2 linked regions of the Homo sapiens genome follow. The protein of the gene in region 1 purifies or fractionates together with the protein of each later gene. This does not show direct contact. Each region holds a gene or a part of one and is shown in the gene's direction. Other genes may lie near its edges.

What was found.
Region 2: the proteins of MYL4 (region 1) and IQGAP3 purify together in Homo sapiens (co-immunoprecipitation; 2 studies listed by BioGRID and IntAct, with this or other methods). This does not show direct contact.

The regions. Positions count from the first base shown.
Region 1 is NC_000017.11:47,205,489-47,219,649, forward strand, and holds the start of MYL4 (myosin light chain 4), read left to right. Parts: upstream 1-3,859; 5' UTR 3,860-3,934; coding exon 3,935-4,069; intron 4,070-8,310; coding exon 8,311-8,338; coding exon of another isoform or gene 8,339-8,431; intron 8,432-14,161. UniProt on the Homo sapiens protein: Regulatory light chain of myosin. Does not bind calcium.
Region 2 is NC_000001.11:156,534,566-156,541,565, reverse strand, and holds part of IQGAP3 (ras GTPase-activating-like protein IQGAP3), read left to right. Parts: intron 1-649; coding exon 650-858; intron 859-1,575; coding exon 1,576-1,728; intron 1,729-2,028; coding exon 2,029-2,192; intron 2,193-2,532; coding exon 2,533-2,757; intron 2,758-4,244; coding exon 4,245-4,385; intron 4,386-6,318; coding exon 6,319-6,403; intron 6,404-6,832; coding exon 6,833-7,000.

The DNA.
Region 1 (14,161 bases):
GTTACTGGGCTCTAATGAAGCGTGGCGTCATGAATTTTAGTAAAAACAAGGCCAGGGGTTGATATGTTGCTTCTTCATGCATGGCTCTTTCCCTGAAACCACAGCTCTCCTCCAGTTGTTTCTGAAGTGCCAGGCACTTTTTTCACTGGGGCTGCTGAAAACGAATCCGAAACTGATTTGAGGAGCGTCTCCTCCCCTGCTGGGGCTCCTGTGCCTAAGGTTTCAGGTGGTTGGGCATGCCTTCTCTGAGTGTTCTCCGTCAGACAGGCTGCCTGGCCCTAGAGACTTGCCACATGCTTTCTGAGCCACAAATATTTTACACCATGAGTTCCCAGCTGCTGCCCTTCCCCCCGCTTCCATTCCTTTCCACCTCTTCCTCATTCCTAATCCCACACCTTAAAATCCCTTTAGCCACTGTCACCTTACCTTGTCCCTTTCTCATGTGGACCTCTCTCTGGAAGTTCCAAATCTGGGAAGCCTGAATGCACCTCTAGCTTCAACCTGCTTGGCAAAGGAAAGTGAAATGAACATCTTCGAATGTTTCCTACATGGCAGAGGTTGTTTGCAGTGCCTTACTTAACATTATTTCATACAAATCTCATGACAATTTGAAAAGGAAATGTTTATCCTCAAAGGTCCTGAGGCTACTAAGGCCTAGATTAGAAAGTGGCAAAACCAGGCTTCAGACCCATCACTGTCTACCTCCAGAGTCCACAGTATTTGCGTGATTTTGGATGTCTCCGGAGCCCCATTCGGCTTTCCCAGCTTTCTAACCTCATAGCTCTGTTCCCATGCAGACCTGATATTTTGCTTCTTAGAATTTAGAAAAGAAAGGGGAGTGGGGTGGGGGAAAAAAGGAAAAGAAGAAAAGGAAAGAACAACCTTCCAGCTTTTTCTTCTGAGGATCATACGTCTTTGTAGAATAACTACAACAATAACATAATACTAACTTGTTGTGTGTGCGTGTGTGTTTTAACTGGAAGGGGGCATGTGTCATTCAGTGATTATTTAAAAAAATTTTAAGCCATGGAACCATTAGAAAATGATACTGTTTTACATACTGGGAGCTCCAGTATGTAAAACACAGGAGTGGTGGTGACTGAAGTGATGGTGGTGGAAGGAGCTCCAAGGTCTGGCCTTTCTATGTACCCTGCAGCCAGAAGCATGTCACCCTATAAAGCAAGATAGCAAGATTGCTAGTCTCAGGATTCTGTTGAACATGGTTTGAAAGTCTCCTGATTGTTTTTCCTTTTAAAATAAGCAAGCTGAGGCCCAGAGAGAGGAAGTGGCTGGCAGAGTCAGGACTAGTGCCTGGGTCTCCCAGCTTCTATCCTGCAGCTCTTTACAGAAATCCCAGTTTGTATATTTTTGCACAAACTCCGCAGGATGCAGTCCAGGAAGGGATGCAGGTGGAGGTGGAGAAGGAGGAGGGCCTGGGCTTCCACTTTTTCTCTTTCCTCGTCACCAACAACCTGAACTCCCAACCCCTGTGGGGAATGGGGTAGGTCAAGGAGAGGACTGACAGGGATTATAGAAGAGTGCGAGCGAAGGTACAAGGAATCAAGTTTGGTAGCCGGCAAGGAAGAGAGGTGAGGCAGAAGATGAGGGGAGGAGGTGAGGTGCACAGAGCAAAGGAGCCACCATCCCAGCTCAGGACCAGGGCTGGGCTAGAATCTGGGCCCTGGTCTCGTTCTAGTATTCCCTTGAGCAAGTCCTGGCCCTTTTTCCTGCCCGTTTCCTTTGAGGGCTTCTCTGTCACCACCAGTGAGCGTGTATAGGCTACAGGAGGAGCAGTGAAGAGCAGTGTGCTACAGAGAGCACTGCACCCCAGGAAACAGAATTAGTTGGCCCAGCTCTGCCTATAAGTAGCTGAATGTCTTGAGGCAACTTCAACGTTTCCCTGGACCTTAGATTCCTTGCCTGTAAAACAGCATGGGGCCAGATGATCTCTAAGGGTCCTTCTGGCTCTGAAGGCAATGATCTGGGGCATGGAACCTGTAGTTAGAGAGCTGGGAAATGGGCAGATGTGGGCTCCAGGGCACCCAGAATTGCAGGCTTAGGAGCTAACAGCAACCAGGATTCTGTAGTCTAGCAATCTTGCTTTACAGGTGAGGAAACTGGGCCTAGAAAGGCGAAGTGATTTTTTTGCCTCTCTCAGCTTTATTCCTCTTTTCCTCTGAACTGTAGAGTCTAAAGATTCAGCACAAAGCAGTTTTGTGTAGTGGATACATAAGCTTTTTTGTTGTTATTTTTCTGAATTATTTTGTTGACTTTCAAAGTTTTTTTTACATAAACAGTAAATGCTCGTTATAAAAATTTCCATTAATACAGGAAGTGAAAAAAGTAAAAAACTGCAAATTGCTGTTATCCTCCCACCCTTACCCCCTAGGTCCCCAGAGGTGTCTCTGTTAACAGTTCAGCGTGTATCCATCCTGACTCCTCCAATAAATGCAGAAACTTGTATGTCTCTCCCCGACAACTGGATTATCATATACATTATTCAAGCATAGGCTTTAGACTCAGACATATCTACATCTAATCCCAGCTTATAGCTAATTATTTGAGTGACCTTGGCCAAGTTGTTCATCCAGTTTTAGTCTCAATCTCCCCATGTGTAAAGTGAAAATAATAATAGTATCTACCTGGCCTGGCGTGGCGGCTTATGCCTATAATCCCAGCCCTTTGGAAGACCGAGGCTAGTGGATCCCTTGAGCTCAGGAGTTCAAGACCAACCTGGGCAATTTAGCAAGACCTCATCTCTACTGAAAAACAAAAAACAAAAAAACTCCCCCAAAATTAGCCAAGTGTGCTGGTGTGCACCTGTAGTCCCAGCTACTCGGAAGGCTGAGGTGGGAGAATCGCTTGAGCCAGGAAAGACGAGGCTGCAGTGAGCTGTGATTGCACCACTGCACTGCAACCTGAGCAACAGAGCGATACCTTGTTTCTGTTAAAACAAACAAACAAACAAAATAGTATCTACCTTATAGGATCATGGTGAAGATTTAATGAGATTTTATATGAATAGCACTTAACAGTTCCTGGTACTGATAGTAGTAAGCACTACACACACACACACACACACACACACACACACACACACAGAGCACAGAATGAGTTAGAGGTAAAGTGAAAACTAAACCCCAAGTTTTCTGACCCTCAGTCTCCTCGACTTTCTACCACATCTCTCTGCTTCTCTCCTAGGTGCCTAGGCATGGGTTCAGTGCTCACTACTTGTTGAATGAATGACTGAGGTTGTGTGTAAGGGGGTAGATCTAGGGATCTGAGGTCTGTGGAGTTCCTGGGATGCCTGCTCTGGAAAATGGAGGCTTTCATCCTGTGAGTTGGGAGGGTGTGGGGCAGTGTGGGTTGGCTGGACCAGCTGTTGCTTCAGAGCTCCATGCCTGGAGAGTTGGGCCTCTAGGCAGAGCTGAGGGCCCAGAGTGGCTCTCAGCTTAAAGGATCTTGGCTTAGAAGGAATGTGCAGTGGGCTGCCTCTGCTCGGGAGGGGCTAAAAAAAGCCTCACCCTCCCCTGGGCTTTGTGTGAGGCTTATCAACTGCTCAAGTCAGCTCATCTCTCTGGCTGCTCCGGCATATTTGAGAAGGTCTGTTTCCCTGGTCCTTCTGGGTTTCCACCAATTGGCAAGAAGGGATCAGCCTGTCCTAGAGGTGAAGAGAGAGCTGTGGCATGAAGGGGAGGGGGCTGGTGGCCCCAAACCTGGTGACAATACACAGTTGTCAGCTGTACCCTGCTGGCGTTTCTTCCTTTTATAGTCAGCAGCAGTTGCTCTTGCTTTCACCCAGCCCCTCTGTGGGGGCTCCTGCCCAGGATAAAAGGGAAGGGAGGCAGCCCAGGCTCCTATCTCATCTCCCAGACGCCACGTCTCTCGGTTTCTTCTTAGATCACTCCTCTGCCAAAGATCCCAACAAGACAACATGGCTCCCAAGAAGCCTGAGCCTAAGAAGGAGGCAGCCAAGCCAGCTCCAGCTCCAGCTCCAGCCCCTGCACCAGCCCCTGCCCCAGCTCCTGAGGCTCCCAAGGAACCTGCCTTTGACCCCAAGAGTGTAAAGGTAAGTGAGGCTCAGCCATTGGGATAGAGGTGGGGATGACATTGAGAGTCCTTTTGCTCTGGAGCTTAGCGATCTACTTTATGTGGGCTGGACTGGGATGAGGACTAGGGTGTCCATGCCCCAGATCGCAGTCCCATGGGGCAGTGGAGTGGGTGTTGGGGCTGATGAGGGGGAGATTGAGTCATAAACCTTTTCCGTCAAGAATGAGGTGCTGCTTTGAGGGAGCCCTGTCCTGCTACCCTAGATTTGTGCAGCTAAGTTGGGAATGGGGGGAGGTACAACCAACCATCCATCCACCCTTTTATAAGGCATTATGAGGACCACCATAGCAAAGTAAAACAGACTAGCCTTTTCCTAGGAGGTAGTGGGATATCTTTATGGAGAACAGACAGATCATGGCAGCTGCCAGTGTAACTTGGAGTAAGTGATATAAACAGTCAGGGAATATCCTCCCTGTGCATGGCAGTTTGGGAAAGGCTTCACTCACAAACACTCTTACGGCAGGTGAGGGCAGGGTGGGAAGGAGGTTGTGGTTAAGGTAAGAGGAGCCCGGATTCCTCTCTCTCTTTCCTTACCCAGACGGGCCTTTCCTTCTGTGGCCTTAGCCTGGGTTCCTATCTGTAGCATGCAGAGGACTGGCCCACCCTGGGCTGAGACCCTCTCTCCAACCGGGTCAGGAAGCTGGGCCTGGTTCCTTTGCCCCACCCTGCTCTCCTCACACAAAACATTCCTCTCCCTGGAGCTGGTGTGGGCCCTGCATGCTGACTCAGTCATTTTAGACCTCCCAGCTCTCTGGCCCAGCTGCTGAAGGAATGGAACTGGTGGGAGAGGGGTGGGCTGAAGAGGGAGGGGGCCAGAGACCTCTGAAGAGGAGCAGTTTTAAGCCTTGGCACCAGAGTGGAAAAGGTCAAGTGGCTACTGGTATGAAGAGCTATTAATAACAGGTTGGGAGTGCTGAGCCCCCAGGGATCTCAGCCTTAGGACAGGGCTGGGGGTGGTGAGGGATCAGGTCAAAATAAGAGCACAGGACAAGGTTCTGTGACAAGCAGGCAGGGAAATTAAAACCCAGAGCTCTAATTGTATGACCTCCCTGCCCTCTGAGAATTCCTCTCATACCCACAGCCGGGATAACCCTACAAGTATTATGCCAAAGACCCAGTCCCCGCAAGGGACAGGAACTGCTTAGCCAAGAGATGGAGGCAATTGTCCCTTTTCTGAGCTTGGTTATGGCTCACTCTGGGGAAACTGAGGCTACTGTAGGACCCTGAAAACACCTGCAGGTTTTCTAGGTCATACATCACTCCATTTACAAGCTGAGCCTGGCAGGAAAAGCTGACTATTTCACCCTTCAGGATCCCTCCTCGCCTTTATTTCTGATTTGTTCCCATAAAGCACTGTGCCTTTGGGTGGGTTGCCAGGCCTTGTCCCTGGTGTCTGGGCAACAGCTGCCTAGTGGCATCAAACTGGTGTCCTTCCCTTGGCCTGTCACTTCTTTCATTCACTCTCCTCTCTCAATTTCTCACCCGTGAGAAATTGCACCCCTGGTTGCAATCCTCTTTTCCATATCTGCATCTTCATGGGGGTTGTTGAAGTTGCTTTGAAGTAGAAAAAAAATAGGTATCTTTTATGAGAGACATTTTCCCTATTATTGTGTTATACTTACCCAGTTCCTTTGATTAGAAGGTTCTTTACTCCAAGACAGAAGAGAAGCCAGATGAGGTGATTCATGTTTATAATCCCAGCCCTTTGGGAGGCTGAGGCGGGAGGGTAATTTGAGGCCAGGCATTTGAGTCCAGCCTGGGCAACATGGCAAGATCCTTGTCTCTACAAATAAATAAATAAATTATAAAAAAGATTCGAAGATAGAACAGAAGCAAACTTAAGCCCAGTGTGTGTAGTTAGGACCACGTCTATTGAGATTTTAAGTTTTTACATTAATTGCTCTTACATGTTTATTCCTGGTTCTTAAAGCATTGTAAAGTAAGGCAAACTGTGCCTTTTCCTCAGAGAGTGAATGCAGAGCATCCTTCACCCCATCTAGGGGGTTCCTTTAACTTTCTGACCACCCCCTACTTTTGGCAGTCTATTCCTAGCCACAACTAGTTTTCTTTCCAACCCAGTTAACTCCCCACTGCCCCAACCTATCCCCAGCTCATGGCTGCCATATCTGGGTCCTCATGAATGGAGGTCAGTTCTCGGAGATGAGACAGGATGGGCACAGCACAAGCAGCAGCAGAATTAGGACTAGGAATGACGGCACTTGAAGAAGAGGCTCCAGGATTGGAACCACCACCAGTGGAGAGGGGATGGGATGGGATGGGGTGGGGTGGGGTGCATAAGGACCACGAGGTAACATACAAGATCTTAAATCAAAATGATGACTTGGGCTGGGTGTGGTGGCTCACGCCTGTAATCTCAGCACTTTGGGAGGTCGAGGCAGGTGGATCACCTGAGGTCAGGAGTTCGAGGCCAGCCTAGCCAACATGGTGAAACCCTGTCTCTACTAAAAATACAAAAATTAGCTGGGCGTTATGGCGGGTGCCTGTAATCTCAGCTACTGAGGCAGAAGAATCGCTTGAACTTGGGAGGCGAAGGTCGCAGTGAGCCAAGATCACACCATTGCACTCCAGCCTGGGTGACAAGTGCGAAACTCCATCTCAAAAAATAAGAATAAAAAATAAAATAAAATGATGACTTATGCTTGGCCATTGTCATTCACTCTCCTCTTCTGTACTCAGCATTAAATTACTATGCATTATATGGGGGAAATCTAAAATGTATTACTTCATTCAACAAATGTTTTTCAGTGCCTACTATGTACTGAGCATTTCAGTGAACAATAACAAGAATCCTTGCCTGAGGGAGCAGTGGCTTCAAGGAGACAGAGTGCACGTAAAGGCATGACTGGAAACAATTAGGAAGCGTGGAGGGCCCATGCCAATTGCTCTTGCTGTCCCAGAGTGCCTAAGAGTGTGTCAGAAGACAAAATTAGAAGGCATTTTAGTTTAAAGATCTGAATTGGCTTTTATGTTTGAGTCTAGAATCTGGCAACAATGAGCCGAGCAGAGGAGGTGGTATTATAGACAAAGAAAGGCTGAGGTAAGCAGAAATGAGAGCAAAATGCAAATTGTTCATTGCAAAGTTACTTTTCTTGTAAAGGTTAAAGCAGATGGCACTTTCTTATCAAGCTGGCTGAAACTGTCATGTTTGGGGATTTGGCTATTATCTCTTATTTTCCTGATTTCTTGGAAAATCAGATGAACAACTTAGTTTCAGCTTGGTGACATGGAACTTCAGCATGAGTGAATCTATTTTGGTTTGGTCTGTTGGTCCTAGTGTAGGAGCTCAGTACAAACCAACGGCCTCTTATAAATTGTACTTAACGAGGGATATGTGCTGAAGGAGGGGTTGGAGTGGGATGCGGTGTGGGAAGCCTTCATTGAAGGGAGTGGATTTAAAATCAGAATCAAATAGAAAGAGCAGTCCGAGTGTGGGGAGTGGTGGTGCCCAAAGAGGGCAGAAGTGCAGCTTGTCAGAGGACTATGGACTAGGAAGAGATTGAAGGGGCAACAGTGAGGGCAGTTTGTGGGTGGCTAGGATGAAGAATTTACCTCAGACCCGGAGGCATTACAATAGGCAGTCCGTGTACGTTCTAGAATTATCCAGGGAATTTTTCTTTCCCTTTCGCTCTTACCTGGAGCCATCACTTAATAAGCGGTATTGAGAGAGCTTTGGAGTCTGCATTACAGTTGTCCCTCGTTATCTGTAGGGGATTAGTTCCAGGACCCCCACGGATACCAAAATCTGAGGATGCTCAAGTCTCCTATATAAAGTTTGCATATTTGCATATAATCTACACACAACCTCCTGTATAATTTAAATCATCTCTAGGTTACTTATAATACCTAGTACAATGTGAATACTATGTGATAGTTGTTATGTATTTTTTGTATTATATTTTATTTTCGTGTGGTTATTTATTGTTTTCTGAATATTTTCAATCCAGAGTTGGTTGAACCTGGGGAGGAGGGCCGACGGTATTTTATAGCCTGTCAGTTGTGGCTCATTCATCAGGAGACTTGTGTTTTACCCTTAGCACAAGTCACCTTCCCTGCTTATCAGTGGCCTGCTGGAGGTGGCCATACTGCATTGGAAGCCACTTCTGCTTCTACTTCCCTTTGGGGGGCCTTTACAACTGCTTTTAGCAATCCAAGCCCTCACTACTATTTCCCTCCCTACAGATAGACTTCACTGCCGACCAGATTGAAGGTGAGTATGGACAACCCCACCTCTCCGTCTCTATTGCACTTTCCTGGAGGAGGAGGAGGAGGAGGAAGAAGAGGAGGAGTAGTTGTCCTCATGGTAATAGTAATCACTGTCATCATCATAGCAAACCTATATTGAGCATCTACCATGTGTCAGGCATAGTCCTAGGCACTTTATATGGATTAACTCCTTTAATTCTCATAACAACACCATGAGGTAGAAATTGTTACCTCCCCCATTTTACAAGTGATAAACTGAGACACATAGAGATTGGGTGACTTGCCCAGTCTCACATGGCAGTCAGCAGTAGAGCTAAGATTCAAACTCAGGCAATCTGATTCCAGATCTGTTTCCTCAACTACTCTGCCAGACTGCTTGGAGCATAGTAGATGCTTAACAAAAGTTAGTGCCTTTTTTTCTTGGCCCCAAAGATCTATCTAAGATATTTGGAAGCCCTCATTTCTGTTCCCATTATTGGAAAGCCCTCCTTAGTTTACCAGCTTCCCCTCTTCCCACCATGAAGTCTGCCAATATGCTAACCCACTAATGGTGGCAGGGCCAATGAAATGTTTTATCATGTGATGCTCTGTGTCCCCAGCTGTAAAGCAGGACTCAATGTCATTGCAGCGTATCCCTCTGTTTCCTCCACCAAACGCCTCTAGGACATAAAATTATAGGAATTGGAAGGGACCTTGAAAAATCACCTAATCCAACCCCCTCATTTTAAGCACATACTCTCTTTTAAAACTTAAATGAATATTTGCACATGGTAAAACAAAAAAGCAAAAAAGCACACACATATTACTTAAAAGTAAATAATAAAAAATAAAAATCCTTTTTTTCCATGCTGATTCCTCTCCCAAAGACAACCACTGTGAACAGGTGTTTATGTATCCTTTCAGAAAAATATATAATGATACACAAGTTTGTGTGTATGTATGAGTGTATACAGTTTATACAAATCAAGCCGTGTGATACACACTGTCCACCTTTTATTAAATATATACTTGGATTTAATAATATACAGTATTTGGATATCTTTTCAAAATTAACACAAACAGTTCTACCTCATTCTTTTAAACAATTATATAGACTCTCACACACAGATGTACCCTTTTAATTTAATCAAGACTATATTGATAGGCTTTCAGATTGTTTCCGGTGGGAGGATATCAGCTTTCTTTCGCCTGTGGCCTTCCTAGCAGGGTTTAAAGGATGGTGCATTTTAAATTATAATGGTTATTACCAGGTTGCTCTCCAAAAAAGTGACACCAGTTTACCCACAAATGGAGCATGAGAGCTGGCATATGCATTTTGAAACTAGTGAATTGAGCCTGACTCTGTTTTCATAATACTCAGTGGATACTCACTTGCAGCATTAATTTCAATGCATTTTAGTTAAATATATACTTACGTGGATATAGAAACACAATGACACTAGTGAGGACTGGAAAATCAACTAATGATTTAAAATTTTAATTTCCCAAATGGCCAACTGGAACAGATGGTTATCTCTTCTCTCCTGAAGACTTTCAGGGCTGATGGGGAGGGGACAACTCATTCTGATCTTTTATCCCTCTGACTTTGAAGACATTTTTCCTTCTGTTGAATCAGAATTGTTTTTCCTTTAATTTTACCCCAGCGATCTTTTCATTTGTTTTTTGGTGAAGATTATAATGGTTTTCTCATTGTCATCTTGGTTATGGTGGAAAGAACATAATTTGGAATTAGGAGACTTTCGTATTAGCCCTAATTCTTCCATTATTGGCCATGAGACTTCGGACAAGTCACTTCTTTAAATCTTAATTTTCTTATCCACAAAGTGAGGGTATTTGGGTTTCAATTCAGAAATTCTAGTCCATTCAGCATCCTCTAGATATCCTCCATCTATTTGGAGATAGTTTTCAAATCCCTCCTAAGATTTATATTCTCTAGGTGATATGCCTCAATTTATTTTATTTTATTTTATCATTTTATTTTATCTTGAGACAAGGTCTTGCTCTCTCACCTAGGCTGGAGTGCAATGGTGCTATCATAGCTCACGATAACCTTGAATTCCTGGTTTTAAGCAATCCTTTCACCTCAGTCTCCTGAGTAGCTTGTACTACAGGCATGTACCATTGTTTTTATGTTTTGTAGAGATGGGGGTCTCGCTATTTTGCCCAGACTGGACTCCAACTCCTGGCCTCAAGCAATCCTCCCACCTTGGCCTCCCACAGTGCTGGGATTATAGGCATTAAGTCACTGTGCCTGGCCTCCCAATTTCTTTTGTGCTTTTTTTTTTTTTCCCCCTCATAGGAATTAGCTTCTAACCCTTGGCTTGCTTCTCATCCCTCTCCAGACTTCTGTATTCTTTTAGAGAGGGGTTACTACCACTGGACTCATTGCTCTAGTAAGCAGGTGACCACACTACTGCAGATTATTGAGGAAAGGTCTCTTCTGGACCCTTGAACATCACCTCTAATACCTGAAGTTCACACTGGCTTTTTTTTTTTTTTTTCTAGTTGTAGTCCTAAACTTCAGTGTTTGATTTTTTTATGTGCATACCAGGCTTCCCAGCAGGCCAGGTGATTGGTTGGAGCATTAGCAGTTATAACAAGCAGGTCTCCTTCTCTTCCTCCTTCCTCCCCATCATTTCCTTGGTTTGCTTAATAGTTGATCATAAGTCATATCTACATTGGCTTTTACATGAGGATAATAATACCTATAGCATATATTTTTTCATAAAGATTAATAAAGTGTTCTATGCAAAATTATTTGCTCAGATCCTGGTTCATGGTAAGTGCTCAAATTATAGGTCATTGTTCTTATTACCTTCCTCTTCAGGTTTCACCCTCTTATTAAGCATCATGACATCTTTTTTTTCTTTTTCTTTCTTTTTTTTTTTTGAGACAGAGTTTTGCGCTTGTTGCCCAGGCTGGAGTGCAATGGTGTGATCTCTGCTCACCGCAACCTCCGCCTCCCGGGTTCAAGCAATTCTCCTGCCTCAGCCTCCTGAGTAGCTGGGATTGCAGGCATGCATCACCACGCTCAGATAATTTTGTATTTTTTATATAGATGGGGTTTCTCCATGTTGGTCAGGCTGGTCTCAAACTCCCAACCTCAGGTGATCTGCCCGCCTTGGCCTCCCAAAGTACTGGGATTACAGGCGTGAGCCACTGTGCCTGGCACATCATTACATCTTCTTTTGAGGAGACTTCCTCTTTTGTTAAACTTGACCTCACTCTTCTGAATGAACTAGGAGATCAAAAAGTCTGACTTCAGATTCAACTAACAAATATGTATTTATCAAGCACTGAATTTGTGCCAGACACCATGCTAATTGTTTTAAAGGTAAAAAAGATAAATCCTGCCTGGGTGCGGTGGCTCATACCTGTAATCTCAGCACTTTGGGAGGCTGAGGCAGGTGGATCACTTGAGGTCATGAGTTGGAGACCAGCCTGGCCAACGTGGTGAAACCCCACCTCTACCAAGAGTATAAAAAATTAGCTGGGGGTGGTGGCACGCACCTGTAATCCCAGCTACTCGAGAGGCTGAGGCAGGAGAATTGCTTGAACCTGGGAGGTGGAGGTTGCAGTGAGCTGAGATTGTGCCACTGTACTCCAGCCCAGGTGACAGAGCAAGACTTTGTCTCCAAAAAAAAAAAAGATTACATCCTTATAACAAGGCTATGAGGTAGGTGTTATTTCCTTTTTACAAAGCAGGAAACCAAAGTTCAGCAAAGTTAAATGATTTGGCCAAGATCACATGGTTAAGTGATCCAAATTAGGATTAAACTCAATAAGATAATACTAGCAGCATTGTTTATGCATTTACTATGTGCTGGTCATTGTGTTAAAAATTTTTACATACATTATTGTATTTATATACCTAGTATATTTACATACATTATTATATTAATTTGAATGTAATTTAAGAAACCTATGATAGCTGGGTGGAGTGACTCACACCTGTAATCCCAGCACTTTGGGAGGCCGACGTGGGCTGATCACCTGAGGTTGGGAGTTCGAGACCAGCCTGACCAACATGGAGAAACCCCGTCTCTACTAAAAATACATAATTAGCCTGGCGTGGTGGCGCATGCCTGTAATGCCTGTAATCCTAGCTACTCAGGAGGCTGAGGCAGGAGAATCGCTTGAACCGGGAGGCGGAGGTTGCAGTGAGCCGAAATCGCGACATTGCACTCCAGCCTGGGCAACAAGAGTGAAACTCCATCTCAAAAAAAAAAAAAAAACAAAAAACTAACTAAAAAGAAACCTATGATGTAGGTACCATTTATAGAAGAGGTTTTTAGAGGTTAAATATTTATTTGTCCAAAGTCAAGCAATGGGAATGAAATTTGAACTCGATTATTCAGTAATGTGAAAGAAATGTGGTTTTATGTCTTTTAAATTCATATAAAGCCGAAGAAAGAGTTGGAAGTAAAGGTCTGGGGAATCTTCTGTGATATGTGGAATGATTTGTAAATAATCCATACGCAGCCTCGAAGGAAAGAAGTACTTGGAAAGGATGAAAACTGGCTTTTTTTCCTAAGTAGTTCATGAATTCTTTTTTGGCTTATACTGTTCATCTGCTTAGTAAAGCACTTCTTTGTGGGTAGCATAAGGTAACTTAAATGCCCCTCCCAGGCCAAATTACCTCCACTAATGAATTGGTTGAATCCCAATCAATGAAGAATTGGGCCCGGGTATGATGGCTCACACCTGTCATCCCAGCACTAGGGAGGCCAAGGCAGATGGATCACTTGAGGCCAGGAATTTGAGACCAGCCTGGCCAACATGGTGAAACCCTGTCTCTGCTAAAATACAAAAATTAGCCAGGTGTCGTGGTGGTGGGCGCCTGTAGTCCCAGCTACTCGGAGGCTGAGGCACAGGAATTGCTTGAATCTGGGAGGCGGAGGTTGCAGTGAACTGAGATCACACCACTGTACTCCAGCCTGGGTGACAGAGCGAGACTCTGTCTCAAACAAAAACAAAAACAAAACCAAAACAAATCAATGAAGAGTTAAGGTTCTTTGAAAAAGGGACCAGGAGTGCCTTCCTTTGGTCTTGCTGCAGGGATACTTGCCCTGCTGCCTTCAAGGAGTCCAGTCCCTGTGGTTCTGAGCTGGTAAGTAGGAAAGAGAACTAGGAAACAGCTGTAACCACAATTTGTCGATTCCCTTACCATATGCTGAACATTGCTTGGCGTGCTTTGTGATCCCACCTGCAACCCACTCAAGTGATCATTGTATCTCCACTTAGAGCTAGGAAAATGAGGGCCCACAGGGGTTAATAGTTTGCCCAAGGCTGTATGCGAGTCCATGGCAGAGCTGGGGTGGTCTGACCATTGCCTTATCTGGCCTGGGGGCCGCCTTTCAGCCTGGAACAGGCAGTACTGATAACAGCTGACTTTCCAGCGGTCTTATCACTTTGTAAAGTGCTTCCACACACTGCGACCTCCCTTTGCTCTCACAGTGACAGGCCCAGGGAGTGGGGTGTAGTTGTCACTCCCTTTGTGTGCACATGAAGCTGAGACCCAGCCCAGCTTATCCTGCACTCTGAGGCAGAGCCAAGATGAGAATTTAGGAATCCTCACTTCTGGGCCAGTGCTGTTTTCACTTGTCTGTCATTTCAGGAGTCAGGAACCTCACCTACACCAGAGCGGGATGTGTGGGTGGGAGGGGTGGAGGCCAGGGAGACATCTGAATTTTTTTTTTGTTTCAAGATGGAGTTTCACTCTGTCACCCAGGCTGGAGTGCAGTGGTGCGATCTTGGCTGACTGCAACCTCTGCCTCCCGAGCTCAAGCGATTCTCGGGCCGCAGCCTCCCAACACTGGAATTTTAT
Region 2 (7,000 bases), on another chromosome or scaffold:
TCTGTCTCATAGTAAACATTCTATGTATTAGTTGTTTTGTTGTTATTTCCAATAAATTAGCTCAGAGGCTTCTTTCTTTTTTGCTCAAATGCCAATTCCAAAGGTGATTCAAGGAGAATCACCAGCTAGCTCTGACCTCCCCTAAATTATAAAGCCCACTGTCCATCCCGTCTACCTGTCCTTCCCGGTGTGTACAGACATTCCTGACAGAGGAGCACTGTGGGAGCAAGCAGGGCTGAGTGGTGGCTGGCAGGTAGGAGGAGGAGGAGGAGCAGGTTGGCCCAGCAGAAGTGAGTGGTAGATTGGGGTAGACTAGGGAGGTCTGGGAGGATAATCAGAGGGAGCTGTGGCTCTGGCTTTGGTGTCAGAGGTCCCTGGGATAGACCCAGGCTGGGGTGAATCAGAGGCATGGGAAGAGCAGCTATTATGTCATCTCCAGTTATAAGACAGGAAGCTCAGGGACAGGCCTGGCTAGAAGGCTACCCACTGCCCTCCAAGTGCAAGCAGAACCAGTTAGAAGAGGACTGGGGTTGGGGACCTGCTGATCCCAAGCAGAACGGGGACTGGGGTGGGCTGACTCGGGCAGGGGCTGGTGAGGAGGCCTCTGATGAGGCATGGCTAATCCTGATGCCTCCTCCCTTCCTCCCAGTGCATGCACCCCACCCTCCTCTCAGTGTGGTACGCAGATTTGCCCATCTCTTGAATCAAAGCCAGCAAGACTTCTTGGCTGAGGCAGAGCTGCTGAAGCTCCAGGAAGAGGTAGTTAGGAAGATCCGATCCAATCAGCAGCTGGAGCAGGACCTCAACATCATGGACATCAAGATTGGCCTGCTGGTGAAGAACCGGATCACTCTGCAGGTATGGGGCCCACCAGTCCTCCCCTCCCCGAGATCTGCCTGCCTCTGGAGATGTGATGCTGACCATTCTCTGCTTGCTAATCAATTTTTTTCAAAATGTTGTGGATTTTGTCACCTGACTCAGGTCCTTGTTCCAGTGGCCCTCTGCCATTCTAATAAATCATTTTGGGGGACCCATGACAGAGTAGAAAGAGCATGAAACCTAGAATCAGAATGCCTGGCTCTGCTGATTCCCAGGGATGGGGCTGTGGGTGCTCATTTCACTTCTAAGTCTGTTTTCTCATTAGCAAACTGAGAATAATGAGAATGTCCACCTCTCCAGGCCAAATATAGAGACAGATATGAAAGCTGTTTAAATCATAAATTACCATATAAATATGCAGTGACAGGGTAATAGTGATATAGTGATAGCTCCACCTCAAATGTGTGTAGCAGTCTAATAAGAAGAGATAGCAAAAGCCAAATAGACACAATTCCTCAGCCTGGCAAACCAGTTCTCTTTGGGGACTCACTCCCATGACAGGAGAGGAAACAGATGGAGTCTCAGGGCACTTGGAGGGGCCCTTCCTCACCCTAGAACTGCTTCTGTCCCCCAGCTTATGCCTGTTCCTTGAACAGCAGAAAGCCCTGGCTCTTCAAGGCACTGATTCTAGACCGTATGTTCTGTGCCCTGGGATGGCCTAGGCTAGTTGTATCACCCGCTCCTCCACCCCTGCAGGAAGTGGTCTCCCACTGCAAGAAGCTGACCAAGAGGAATAAGGAACAGCTGTCAGATATGATGGTTCTGGACAAGCAGAAGGGTTTAAAGTCGCTGAGCAAAGAGAAACGGCAGAAACTAGAAGCATACCAACACCTCTTCTACCTGCTCCAGGTTAGCAGAGGACTTTCCAAGGAGAAGTCTCTCCCGTCTCCTGAGGGTCTGAGACTTCAAGGCCTTCTTGTCTGTGCGTTTGGCACCATGCAAGGTGTCCTTTCCCATAATCTTAATTCCTTATCCCCAGGAAAGGAGACTACCTCTTCCCCTGTTTGTCTGGAATGTTACTAGCACCTGGAGAAAGTGTGGTAGTGCTTTCTCCATTCCAGATTTCCATCAGGGGAAAGCCTTTCCTTATCCTATCACTGGTCCTTGAAGTGCATGGTCAGCCATTCCTGTCTCCCCTCTTGCTTGCAGACTCAGCCCATCTACCTGGCCAAGCTGATCTTTCAGATGCCACAGAACAAAACCACCAAGTTCATGGAGGCAGTGATTTTCAGCCTGTACAACTATGCCTCCAGCCGCCGAGAGGCCTATCTCCTGCTCCAGCTGTTCAAGACAGCACTCCAGGAGGAAATCAAGTAGGCTCTCCAGACACAAAGGAATGGGGAGAGAATGGGTTAAGAGATCCCCCTGTTGGCTCCTTCACAAGGTGACAACTTGTTGAGGCCTAAGGGTAGAAATGGAATCAGAAGACCTCTTTTCTCTACCTCCTGTGGAGAAACCGTAAAACATCTGGGACAGCACAGTGGGAGGATATGGGCTGACATGCTAACACAAAGGATGAGAGAGATATCAAGACATTCCTTAAGAGCGGGGACACCAGGGCAGGCTTTGAGAGCCAAAATCTCAAAAAGGAAAAGCAACGGTATGTCCTACACAGAGGCAGAAGACTGGTTTCAATGACCTCTTAAACCACAGGTCAAAGGTGGAGCAGCCCCAGGACGTGGTGACAGGCAACCCAACAGTGGTGAGGCTGGTGGTGAGATTCTACCGTAATGGGCGGGGACAGAGTGCCCTGCAGGAGATTCTGGGCAAGGTTATCCAGGATGTGCTAGAAGACAAAGTGCTCAGCGTCCACACAGACCCTGTCCACCTCTATAAGAACTGGATCAACCAGACTGAGGCCCAGACAGGGCAGCGCAGGTGAGCACATGGGCAGAGGGAGGAGCTCTCTTTGATCAGCTGTGTCTTGATCAGCTGTGTCTTGGACCCTACTGGGGAAGCTTGGGTGTACTTTGAAGGTGGCATATAAATGGGCATGCTGATCTATGCAAATATGACACCAGCTTTGTAGGCATGAATAAGGTAGTCTTTTAGACCCCCTCTGATAATTAACATGAAACTGATGTAAATGACTTCAGACCTGGTGGGCTTAACATAAAATGAGTACAGATGAATATGCAAATGTGCTTAATTGCTATGTCAGTGCTTGCAAATGATGTGTCAAATTTGGTGGTAGTAGGGCCGGACATAGTGGCTCACGCCTGTAATCCCAGCACTTTGGGGGGCTCAAGGTGGGCAGATCACCTGAGGTCAGGAGTTTGAGACCAGCCTGGCCAACATGGTGAAACTCTATCTCTACTAAAAATGTAGGTCAGGCGTGGTGGCTCACGCCTGTAATCCCAGCACTTTGGGAGACCGAGGCAGGCGGATCACGAGGTCAGGAGATCGAGACTATCCTGGCTAACATGGTGAAACCCCATCTCTACTAAAAATACAAAAAATTAGCCGGGCGTGGTGGCAGGCACCTGTAGTCCTAGCTACTCGGGAGGCTGAAGCAGGAGAATGTCATGAATCTGGGAGGCAGAGCTTGCAGTGAGCCGAGATCGTGCCACTGCACTCCAGGCTGGGCGACAGAGCGAGACTCTGTCTCAAAAATAAAAAATACAAAAATTCGCCGGGTGTTGTGGCGCACTCCTGCAGTCCCAGCTACTCGGGAGGCTGAGGCAAGAGAATCACTTGAACCTGGGAGGTTGCGGTGAGCCGAGATTGCACCACTGCACTCCAGCTCTAGGCAACAGAGTGAGACTCTGTCCCCCCGCAAAAAAAAAAAAAAAAATTTGCTGGGAGTTAGGATATGGACTCCTATTGATAGGGGTATAGAAGAATATTTCTATTTACAGATGAATAGGCAAATGAGATAGTGGGAGAGATAGGTTGCCCTTATAGCCTGGGGTCATTACTCAGGTCCCTAGGTGCTAGGGAAACCTAGCCACAGAGGCGAGCAGGCAATCCTGGTGGCTGCTCTGGATGGCACAGGAGGCTTTAGGTGAGGGAACTATAAGGCTCTGGCCCAGCCTCTCCATTATTCCAAACTCCCAAAGACTATTTGCAGCGCAGCCGCCTGCTTGTCATCTGTTCCCCTTAGAAGGGTCCCTAGATTCCACGTTCTCTGTTCCTTCCTACATTCTTCCAGCTTCCCTGTAGATACTCCAACTCTTCTTTACCTCCCGACTGCATTTCTCCAGTCCTTTCTCTCATTCTGGCCCTTTCTCCTTTAGCATGCTGAGCTGTCCTTAGCACATCTGTATGAGATCTTGTTGTTAGACAAGCGTTTAAGGAATAGGGCCTTGGGGAAGGAGGCCATTGGAGGGGGCTCCTGCTTACACCTTGTCTCTCTCTGCTCATAGCCATCTCCCATATGATGTCACCCCGGAGCAGGCCTTGAGCCACCCCGAGGTCCAGAGACGACTGGACATCGCCCTACGCAACCTCCTCGCCATGACTGATAAGTTCCTTTTAGCCATCACCTCATCTGTGGACCAAATTCCGTATGTGCAACAGCCCCACCCCAGCCTACGCATGGGATTTCAAGAGGGCCAGGCCACCATGGGGAGCAGAGCAGGGTGATAGTCCTGCAGGGAGGAAGGCAGGGAGGGAGATGGAGCCAGGGGTACTCAGAGGGGTTCCTGAAGAGATGTGGGGAATGCTCGAAGCTCCTGCTAGAGAGCTGAGCTGAGAGACGGCGTGCAAGTCTGTGTGTGGCCTGGTAGGATGTCAGTGGAACCAGAGGAGGGACCCTAAAATGATCTCAGGGACACTTTATTAGCTAAGAGCAAATGAGGAGAAAATGGGACTCTTCAGTTCCCAATATCAAAAATAAATATTTTAAGCCCATAAAGTACTTTATAGTTCTCTCTTTTCTTAAAATTTAGTCAATACGTTTGGTTTTCTACATTTATTTTTGACACATGATAATTGTACATATTCATAGGGTATAGTGTGATGTTTTGATACGTGTATACATTGTGCAATGAATGATCAAATCAGGGTAATTAGCATATCTATTACCTCAAACATTTATTTCTTTTTGGTGAGAACATTCAAAATCCTTCTAGCTATTTTGAGATATACAACACATTATTATCAACTATAGTCACCTTCTGTGCAATAGAGCACCAGAACTTATTCTTTCTACCTGGATGTAACTTTGTACCCATTGACCAACCTCTCCCCATCCTCTCTCCCCTTCTCCTACCCTCCCCAGACTCCGGTAACCACCATTCTACTCTCTACTCCTGTGAAATCACCTTTTTAAGATTCCACATATGAGTGAGATTATGCAGTATTTGTCCTTCTGTGTTTGGCTTATGTATGTCACTTAACACGAACCTCTACGTTCATCTATGTTGTCGAAAATGACAGGCTTTCATTCTTTTTTTGTTTGTTTTTCTTTATTTTTTATTATTATTATTTTTAAGACAGGGTCTCACTCCATTGCCCAGGCTGGAATGCCCAGGGCAAGATGAGGATGTTGAAAGGGGGAACCCACAGAGTTTATAACCCTGCTCCCCAAACCTGGAGAACCGGATTAAGAGTTTACAATTAGGAGTAAGAAAAGATTGTTCTAGGCTTAAGAAAGTAAAGTACACAATGAGCTGTAAACTTCTGTCTCTGGTACCCTAGGAGTGGAAATTGCTTTTAAATGAATTTAATTACATTTGTAGGTGGCACATCCATAATAGGAATAATAATGATAATACAGTCTAGCACATTTGAATAGTACTCTACCATTATACGTTACTCTCGCAGACATAATTTCACTTGATCCTCAAAAAGCCCTGTGAGAAGAGAAGGCAAGAATGATCATTCCCATTTTCTAGACCAGGGGACAGACTTACAAAGGAGAAGGAAATAGTCTAAGATAATATCTCTGGTTGGTGGTGGAGTCCAAACTGGAGCTTCTCCTCCCGGCTCACTGATCTCCTTGGGGCCCTACCTCTAGCCCAGACTAGGCCACTCACAGATGCTCTGTGACAGCTGACAAGGTTGACTACCTCGGAGCCACCTAGGCTGTCCTAGGACAGGGTTTTGGCTGTGAGTGTCAGATACCCAAGCTTTAGGTTAATGGTGCCTCTGGGGGATGGGGGATGGCTATGGTGAGCTGGGGTGCTCTGCAGGGGACCCAGAGAGTCTCAAAGAAGAGGTTCTCGAGCCAGGTTGGAGGCTGTGTGAGAGATTTAGTAGATGATAGGGCCCTGGTCCTGACTACTGACATAAGGCAGGAGGAAGGGACAAGGCCCAGAGACGTTTGGAGGAAGGCAGCAGGGAGCTGGCTATGGCTAGTGGAGGGACAGTGCTTGAGCTCTACTCTGGAGTGGCTGAGCCTGGGGGAGAAGAGACAGCCAGGCACTCAAGCTCTTATCTCTGGCAGAGAGAGATGGGCAGAGGCACAGCCACGCGCACCTGTTTCTTTGTCCCCAGGTATGGGATGCGATATGTGGCCAAAGTCCTGAAGGCAACTCTGGCAGAGAAATTCCCTGACGCCACAGACAGCGAGGTCTATAAGGCAAGTGTTGTCTCCCCACCCCCACCTCCCAATCCCTCCTTTGCTTTGCTGGTACCTGCAATCCCCAGACTGAGACAAAAACACAAAAAATCCTATGCCATAAAAATCCAAGGAGGGAAATATGCTGCCCCCTATAAATGGAGCCTGGCTCACCCGCAGGGCTTCAGGTGGCAGATGGCTCATGCTGGGGTGTGAGCGAACAGAGTGGGCAACACTGGCTTCTTGTCAGGAGATCTGGGTTCAAGTCCCAGCTCTTGCTCAGGTTTGCTGTGTGGCCTTAAGCAAGTTGTCTGCCTGCTCTGGGCCTGTTTTCTTTGAAGTGAGGGGGTTGGCCCAGGTGTCCCTTCCAGCCAAGCAAGCTGAGAATGTGGGGCCGCACCAGTCAAGGCGGCCCCTGGACACTTCTGGGAGAGTCTCCTTTGCCCTCAGGTGGTCGGGAACCTCCTGTACTACCGCTTCCTGAACCCAGCTGTGGTGGCTCCTGACGCCTTCGACATTGTGGCCATGGCAGCTGGTGGAGCCCTGGCTGCCCCCCAGCGCCATGCCCTGGGGGCTGTGGCTCAGCTCCTACAGCACGCTGCGGCTGGCAAGGCCTTC